Linked DNA regions of Homo sapiens: region 1 is linked to region 2. The links come from fine-mapping of genetic effects on gene expression. A gene starts in region 2. The other region holds a variant in brackets. All regions are shown on one strand. Distances are between the middles of the regions.

Region 1 (4,000 bases), 110 kb before region 2:
CTCTTAAAAGCTCCTGCAAAGAAACTGTGGATGCAAAATGACACTAGTCCCATAATCACAAGCAATCATTAAAAAACGCAATGCCGACCCTTCTCAGGGGGTCTTACCATGTCACTCAGCCTTATTACAAAGTAAAAATCGTGACGACCTATCAGATGTGACCCCCAAGTACCCCAGGATCCAAATGATCGAGAAGACTATATGAAATACAGATTGATGTAGGCCATTACTAATAACAAACCTTGCGCTAAGTGTGTAAGTGCCCAGAGAGAGCAGCTAATGGTGAAATAATAGCTATCTTGATTAGAAAAACATTTTAAACCACCAAGACACTCAAACTTTGCTGTACAATTGGATAAAGGATAAATATCTCTAACATGCCTCTTGGTATTTGCAAGAATTCATTTCAACAATAAAAATATATGAAAGGCTGGGTGCGGTGGCTCATGCCTATAATTCCAGCACTTTGGGAGGCCAAAGCAGGCGGATCACCTGAGGTCAGGAGTTCAAAACCAGCCTGGCCAACATGGTGAAACCCTGTCTCTACTAAAGATACAAAAGTTAGCCAGCCCTGGTGGCACATGCCTGTAATCCCAGCTACTCGGGAGGCTGAGGCAGGAGAATTACTTGAACCCAGGAAGTGGAGGTTGCAGTGAGCCGAGGTCACGCCACTGCATTCCAGCCTGTGCGACAGAGCAAGACTCCATCTCAAAAAAAAGAAGAAGAAGAAGAAGAAGAAAATATGAAGAACTCTCTTTTTGTAAACCACTAAAGGATGAACCAGTGGACATATATTCTCAACAGTAAATGACTTCCTGGATGACAATAAGCTTTAGCAAACAACACTGAAAGTGTAGCTACTGATGTTATGACTGGGAGAAAAAGGAATTGGGATAAGGTAACAGAGATGGAGGGTGCAGCATTCAGAGACAAGCTATTGCCACAAAGGAGTCAAAGCTAGAAGACGGCAAATTGCTACAGGAAGCCATCATGCAGCTACCTTTATAGAGCAAGACCTTTGAAATATCATGGTATATTTATGGAACTTTGTATGGAATAAGGTCTGTGGCAATTGCTCGTGCCTGCTTAGAATTGCTGGCTATCTATAGGCAAAAGAATTGTCAGACTTATAGCTGAGTTCTCTTTTTGTTCCACAAAAGATAGTATTCCCCTGCCTTTTCCTGTGAAGACAGGTGGCGATCAGAAGTATGCCTCCTGCTAGAGCTTTTCAAGAGGGTTGGCACACTAGTCTGTTCCTCCAAAGTAATGGAGATTTTTTTCCTGTTTTTATTTAATGTCAACTCTTTGGTTTTTTTTTTTTTCTTTGTAAAGTAAGGGGGAATGTTGTGATTTCAAGGCAGGATGTGTATCAGCATAAAAATACTGAGAATAATTTCCTTGTTGGTCAATCTGCAATCAGACATCTGTGTATTTTTAGTATTTCAAAATAAAAAGCAAAAAGTAATAACAATAAAATCCATGTTATATATATAACATGCATGTAGTGTAGTAGATACTATATGTAATAACTATGTATGTGAAGTATATAATACATTTTTCTTAGTATTAACAAAATTTTAATTGACAAATAAAAATTGTATATATTTGTGGTGCACAACTATTTGTTTGTTTGTTTTGAGATGGAGTCTTGCTCTGTCACTCAGGCTGGAGTGCAGTGGCGCAACCTCAGCTCACTGCGACCTCCCCCTCCTGGGTTCAAGCGAGTCTCCTGCCTCAGCCTCCTGAGTAGCTGGGATTACAGGCATGTGCTGCCATGCCCAGCTAATTTTCATATTTTTAGTAGAGATGGGGTTTCACCATGTTAGCCAGACTGGTCTCGAACTCCTGACCTGAGGTGATCCACCTGCCTTGGCCTCCCAAAGCACTGGGATTAAGGCATGAGCCACTGCGCCTGGCTGGTACACAACTGTTGTTCTGAAATAAGTATACATTGTAAAGTGGCTAAATTGCACCCATGTGTATTACCTCATATATTTATTTTTTGTGGTGAGAACACTTAAAATCTACTCTCTTAGCAATTTTCAAGAATACAAGACACTGTTATTAACCATAGTCACTATGTCGTACAACAGATCCTTTGAACTTATTCCTCCTGTATCTAACTGAAATGTTGTACCCTTTGATCAATATCTCCCCTCTCCCCCAGGCCCTGGTAACTACCATTCTACTCTGCTTCTATGGGTTTGCTTTTCTTAGGTCCCATATGTAAGTGAGATCATGTGATATTTGTCTTTCTGTGCCTGTCTTATTTCACTTAGTACTGCTTTTAATAAAAGCGAGGTGGGCTGAGAGGAGTCTGGTGAGAACCAGGAAGCACAGCTGCCCAGGGCGATGGCTTCGGGGGCTGGGGCTCACTGCTGCCGGGTGGGCTGGACATCCAGACTGCACCCGCTTCCCAGCATGGGTGACAGAGGAGCCCAGGGGCCGTCCAGTGAGACCTGTCC[G/A]TATCTCCACTCTTCAGCCTCCCCGGTGATTGAGAATGGCCAGCTGGAGTGTCCTCAGGGGTACAAGAGACTGAACCTCACTCACTGCCAAGGTAGGACCCCCAGGGCCAGGGCTGGGCTCAAGGATGCCGGGGCACACTCCCAGCACCAGACAGGAGGGGTGTCTGTCACTGGCCGAGTGGTCTCCACTGAGTCCCTCTAAGCCCCAGCTTTGGGGAGTGGTGGGGGGCTGCTGATTCCAGGGGACTAAGGAAATCCAGGGACTTGCTTGAGAGTGACAGAGGAAGCCAAGGGGGCCGACACCTCCCCTCGTCCCCATCTCCACCCACACCCACCTGGAACACAGGCTAGGGGCTCTAGGCTATGTGGGGCTGTGTCTGAAGGGGCCACCCCAGTCTGTGCACTTCCACTTTTCTCCTGAGCTGGTCTCCCTGGAGTGGGAAGAATTTCAGCTCTAGGGTGGGAAATCAAGTCAGCCTGAGTTGTTGGGGCCTCTGTGGGCTTTTCCCAACTGAAAACCTTTAGCTACTCAGGCTTCCCTCCCGCTTGCTTCAACCCATAGCCAGGAAAGGGGACGGGGAGCACGGGGGCTTCCTGCCTGGGACAGGCTCCTGGGGCTGGCAGAGGCCAGTGGGGAACAAGGTGGCTTCCCTGTGGGGAGCTTTGACAACTGGACAAACAGTTGTCTGTATGGTTTGCTTTGGGTGGAGCTGGGTCAGAGACAGGGGATTGACCCAGATGGCCTCCAAGGTGCCCTCCTCCTGGAGGTTGCTTCAGAGAGAGGAGTCTGGGGAAGCTCTGCATGGCTGGGCTGTCTTCCTTGGGGGTGCCAGGCTGCAGAAGTGATTCCTAGCCCGTGGATAAGCAAAGGTGCTGGGGCCAAGCAAAAGGGCAGGTCTCTGGCCCAGCCTAGTCCAGAGTCAGACTCCCTCAGGAGCCAGTGGTTTGAGGGCCAAGCAGACAGTGGATGTAGGGAGAAATACGTATTTTTGCCTTTGGAGGGTACATCGGGGCTGTTCATGTCTAAACAGTCACCAGTTGCTTTTCCTCCTGGTATGTTTCCCAATCTGGAGCTTTAAGGTTATACTCAGGATCTCAAATGGGCTCTCTGCCCTCCCTCTACTGAGCCCCAAGATTCAGGACACCAAAGGACCTTCCCTCAGGAGGCCCTGCCCCTGAAACCTCCCCTTCCCATGTATGTGGCTGTGGTCTCTGTGTCTGCGAAGGGACCTGCTCATCTCTGCACCCGCATGCGTCATCTCTCCTCTCTCTCCATCCTTCTCTCCTACTTCCACAGAGTATTGGAGGGGAGGTTACTATGGGCTACATACACTGTGCTAGGAGTACACAGTGATGGAGAAGACAGTCCTGCCCCAAGTGCAGACAGACCCCCTGAACAATCAGGTCTAATGAGCGGGGCATTCTTGAGAGAAAGCAGCAGTCCCTGAGTGCTACAGGATCCCATGGTGGGGGCGCCTTCCCAGACTGGAAGGATCAGGGAAGGCTCCCTGGAAAAGGTGATACCTAAGGCCAAG
Region 2 (4,517 bases):
AGTATTTAGAATTTATATGCGGCTTTTGCTTCACTGGCTTTTTTATTATCCTTTCAATTAGTATTTCAGTATGCAGCCCAGGCATGGAGCACAGCCAGGGTGGGGAGGGGAGCAGCAGAGGGAGGCCAAGGCCAAGTAGGTGGCCATGAGCCCCTGTGAGAGGAAGGCCAGAGAAAGCAAAGGTACAGGAGGGTGGCCTGACATCAGAGACAATGTCTTGTGTGTGTGTCTGTGTGTGTCTATGTGTGTCTGTGTTGTGTGTGTGTCTGTATGTCTGTGTTTTGAGGAGGAGGGTGTCTGTGAAGATGAAGTATGGGCCTGAGATGAGTGGTCCAAGACCCTTGCTGGCCTCAGGGGGCTTCTCACTGCATTATCCACTAATGGGGCAGAGACAGGAAGAGCAATAATATATTTAGCACCCAACAAGTTAAACACCAATACCAGCCCTGAGACAGACCCCAGGATAAGGGAGTTCTCTGTCCTGCCTTGAAGGGAAGGAGACCCAAGCCCCATGATGTGGACTTGCTCCTGGCTCCTACTGTGCACTCTAGGAGCTACACCGAACTGTGCCAGATGCCCACATCCTGTGGGAGTGAAGGAGTCCTGGAGTCCACCATGCTATGTGCTATAGCATCCTCAGCTGGATGCTAGGAGACTAGTGGATGCTAGTGGAATCCCACTGCCAGACCCTGGTTCCTTGTGTCTTCCAGCCCCAGCTGCAGCCTGCTCTGTGGTTTACTTTGCAAACCCACACTTACCTTCAGAAAATGAGAATACTCTCTCCTCCTGACCTCCTGGGACTTTGGTGAGACTCAAGACCTTGTGAAGGCGCTCGAAGAATAGGTTCATCCACTGGTAACACTCAAGATAGGGCATCCCCATGCAAAAAAAAAAAAAAAAAAGGAAACGCAGGTGGAGGTGGATAAAGAGCAGCACAGGGTGGAGACAAAGCAGCCAAAAGGCCTGCATTCGGATCTCAGGGCTCTTGCTGGGAAAACTCAGGGGGACGCTCACTCACTGAGTGCCTATTGAGTGCCAATGTGTCACGTATGTCATCTCATTTTGTCCTCATATGACCCCTCACTTTGTCCATGAGGAACCTGAGGCTTTAAGAGGTTAGGTAACTTGCTCGAGGTTATACAGCAAGTGGGACCCTAGGACCAAAACTTAGGTCCATGAGCTTTAAAACCTGTGCCCTTCCCAGCACAGCACTGAATCTCCAAATCACAGGATTTCATCCTTGTGAGCCCAGCGTCCTGGTCTGCAAAATTGGAGGGGGAAGGGGGACAGGGGGAGGGGGGCAGGGGGAGGGGAAGAGGGGAAGAGGGGCACTATATTGCCTAATAGAGTTGTTAAGAAAATTAAATGAGCTTATGTTGATTAAACACATTATCGGGCTTGGTATCTGGTATATAGTAGGTGCTCAATAAATGCTTTCTGTTTGTTTTTCTTTTTAGGGCAGATCAATGTTAAAAACTCAGGGCTGGCTTTGGAGCCTAGGAGCTCCAAAATGCTTCAAGAAGCCCAAGGGCCTCCCATCGCTCTGGGGTGCGCGGGAGGAGGGGAGAGAAGGGCTGGGAAAGAGGGCTCGGCTCCAGGAAGCGGGTACGCGGGTTCCAGCTGCGCGCCCCTCGCTTCGCCGCCTCCTCCGGGCTCCCCCGACTTCCCGCCCCGCCCCGCCCCGGAGCCGGGTCCGGAGTGCCTGGTGGGCTGATTCCGGAGCGTGGAAGGGAGCACGGAGCACGGAAGCGAGAGGGAGGCGGCGGCGGCGGGAGGCGGGAAGGAGGGGGACCCTCCTCGCTGCTCTCCCAAGTCGGCGCGGAGCCGCCTCGGGCCGGGCCGAGGGCTGCGCGGCGGCGGCGGCGGCGGGGCCCGGCCAGGATGCGGGGCTCCCGGGACCGCGCGGGGCGGGGCGGGCGGCGGCGGCGGGCTGCGGGCGGGAGCTGTCCGCGGTGCTGAAGCGGCGGCTGCTCAGGGACGCGGGGACGAGAGCAGGGGAGCCCTCCTGGGAGTTCCACCGCGACCGCGAGGCGGGGGCGCCGTCGCTCACCGGCCCATGCCGAGCCCCCGAGCCCCGCGGAGGAGGCGGGACCGTCCGCGGCGGGACAGGTAAGGGGCGGTCTGGGGGCGCCGCGGGAGCGCAGAGCTAGGCACGGAGCGGGGAGTGAGCTGGGGAGGGCACGGGAGCCCTCTCGGGGCTAGGGGCTCTGACTCCCTGCTTGGCCGCACCTTGCGCTCCGCCAAGGCTTGCACTTCGTCCCTCCCTACCCCTCATCCTGCAGGCTGGGGGTGCTGGGAGGGGGCTGATGAACTGGGGTCAAGACACCATAACCTCACAACATCAGGCCTTGACCCTGACCTCAGGCAGCTCCTAGACATCCTGCCTACTGACGGCAAGAAATACTGATTAGAGCCTCAGACTCCCTGGTACCCCAGTCCCCACCAAGGTTTTGCGACACTAGCAAAATCTGAGCAGGCTTCACTAAGCTCCCCTCTTCTCGCACCCAAACCTGTTCACCCAGGTGACTGAGGTGGCTGTGGTACCCCCTGCTCTGAGATTTCTCTGCCCTGGAAATGGCTCTTGGGCCAAGGGATTGGCTCTTGGGCCAAGGCCCCTTAGGATGGATTAACCCATTTCTTCAGGGAAGGAAGGAGGTCCTGGAAGATACCTCAATTTTTTTTCCTATGACACTCTTGACGCTCACAGAAGCAGGCAGGATTTGCATCACATCTCTTGGCGCATGAGGGCAAAGAGTCAGGGAACCTGGGTCCTGTTTTCTATTATGTGCTGGTGACCCTAGACAGAGCCTCCATTAGGAGTTCTCTCTCTTTCTGGCAAGAGTGCGCTGAATGAGCTCATTCAGGCCTGCAAAGTGCTTCTAGTTCTTCAGAGCAGAGTTCTCTATGACTGGCAGAATGTAGCGATCAAAATAAAACTGCGTGGAGGAAGAATTGGCCTACCCTTGTGGCTGACCACTTCTTTCTACTGCTTTATCCCCACCCTCCAACCCAACACAACTTCCCTACCCCCAGGGGTAGAAAGAGCACTAGAGTAGGAGTTCCTGGCTGGGTGCTGGCATTTACTGGCTTTAGCTAGTTCCCTAAGCTCTTTCAACCTCATCCTCCTCACCCCTGGAGTGGGGATAAGGTCACCGCTCTGCTCACCTCAGGGAACTGCCTTGGGGCCCAATGAAAAACAATGCACCTGATTGGAGGCTTGCCACCTGTACATCTCCATACCAGTGTGCGCTGCTGTCACTGTTCCCAACCCCTAGCCAGGCCTGCTGTCAGTGACCTGATTATTGTCACCCCTACCCCCTCTTCTCCCAGCATGGCCATGTCTCCCTTTGTCCTTGGCCACCGTGGGGTCCCAGAATCAGTGAAGCCAAACTTATAAACCTTAAGGAGAAAAAAGTGTGCCCTCCCTTCTTCTCCTCTTCCATCATCACCTATAGGAGATAATATAAGGTAAGAGTCTGACTCACCGGTTTTTATTTTTTCTCCCTAAGAACCACAGATCTAGGGAAAGAGCTCCCTGAAGGCAGGAATTGTGTTGTTTTCATCTCTTTGTCCCCCTTCATGACCCCCTCCCCAACAGCACCTGGAAGATAGTAAGGACTCGGTAATCGGGTGTAAAATGAGGGAATGAAATGTTAAAGTGTATCAGAATAAAAGCATTTAACTGGGAGTCAGAAGCCCTGTGTTCTGGTCACAGATCCGCCGCTGTCTCAGGCAGGTCCATTCCCCTCTGGGGGTTCATTTTTCTCATCTGTAAAAGAAGAGAGTTGGGCTAGATGAGTTAAGATTTCAAGCCCTGATATTCTGTAGGGCTTTCTGAGGCTGTCCTAAACCCATAAACCCCTCAATTCTGCTTGAATACAGGATGCCGGCTTTATCAACCTGGTTTGACAACAAAGTTAATGACCTTTTAGTAATGAACTGGATTTTATGAATGGAGTGAAAGTGAGCAATAGGAACCAGAAAAAGCCATTTATATTTCTGATGTTTTCTTAAGAACCCCCTCTCTTATTTCTCTGGGAAAGCCATAAGTGTGACTCAGAATGACTGAACTGAGAGGGGCTCCTGCCTCCAAGCCCAGAGGCCAGGAACCACCACCCCATTATCCCTGCCACCACCACCACCACCACCACCACCATCTCTTGTGAGTAACAAAGGGCCAGGGACCCCACCATTGGCCATCTCCTACCAGGGACCCTGCCTGGCTATGATCTCCCTCCTAGGAAGACCAGAGGAGGGGACAAGCAGGAAATATCCATCCCTACAGAGAATTTATATTTGTGTTACGTGTGTGTGTGTGTGTGTGTGTATATATATATCAATCAAAATGAGTTTCTCTGATAATAATTTCCCTCAACTGTGGCAGGTCCAGCCGATGCTCAGAAAAACCTTAGCTAATTGGCATTTCGGTAGAGCTGAGTAAACCATGCCAGTGACCTCGCCGAATTATTCTGTGAGTGCCCAGCCAGGGTGGGGGACCAGTCCCCCCTCCTCACGTC

Alleles and levels. Positions count from the first base shown, and alleles are read on the strand shown. Sizes are in standard deviations (SD) of each study's normalised expression.
As copies of G replace A in region 1, the expression in thyroid of the gene that starts at base 1,811 in region 2 goes down (large effect, 1.0 SD a copy in GTEx).

The links. PIP is the estimated chance that this variant, and not a neighbour inherited with it, causes the effect. A credible set is the group of variants that fine-mapping cannot tell apart.
Region 1: its variant is the best candidate, but not a certain one, in a credible set for the expression of SYNDIG1L in thyroid (GTEx, PIP 0.67).

Annotation. Positions count from the first base shown.
Region 1 is chr14:74,534,483-74,538,482 of GRCh38, reverse strand. LTBP2 (latent transforming growth factor beta binding protein 2) reads left to right here. Exons shown (of 36, transcript NM_000428.3): 9 at 2,483-2,557. Among named protein-coding and RNA genes, the nearest start is that of ISCA2, 43 kb to the right of the region's middle. The variant G/A (reference allele first, on the strand shown) is at 2,466.
Region 2 is chr14:74,423,504-74,428,020 of GRCh38, reverse strand. It overlaps SYNDIG1L (synapse differentiation inducing 1 like), which reads left to right and starts at 1,811. Exons shown (of 4, transcript NM_001105579.2): 1 at 1,811-2,109.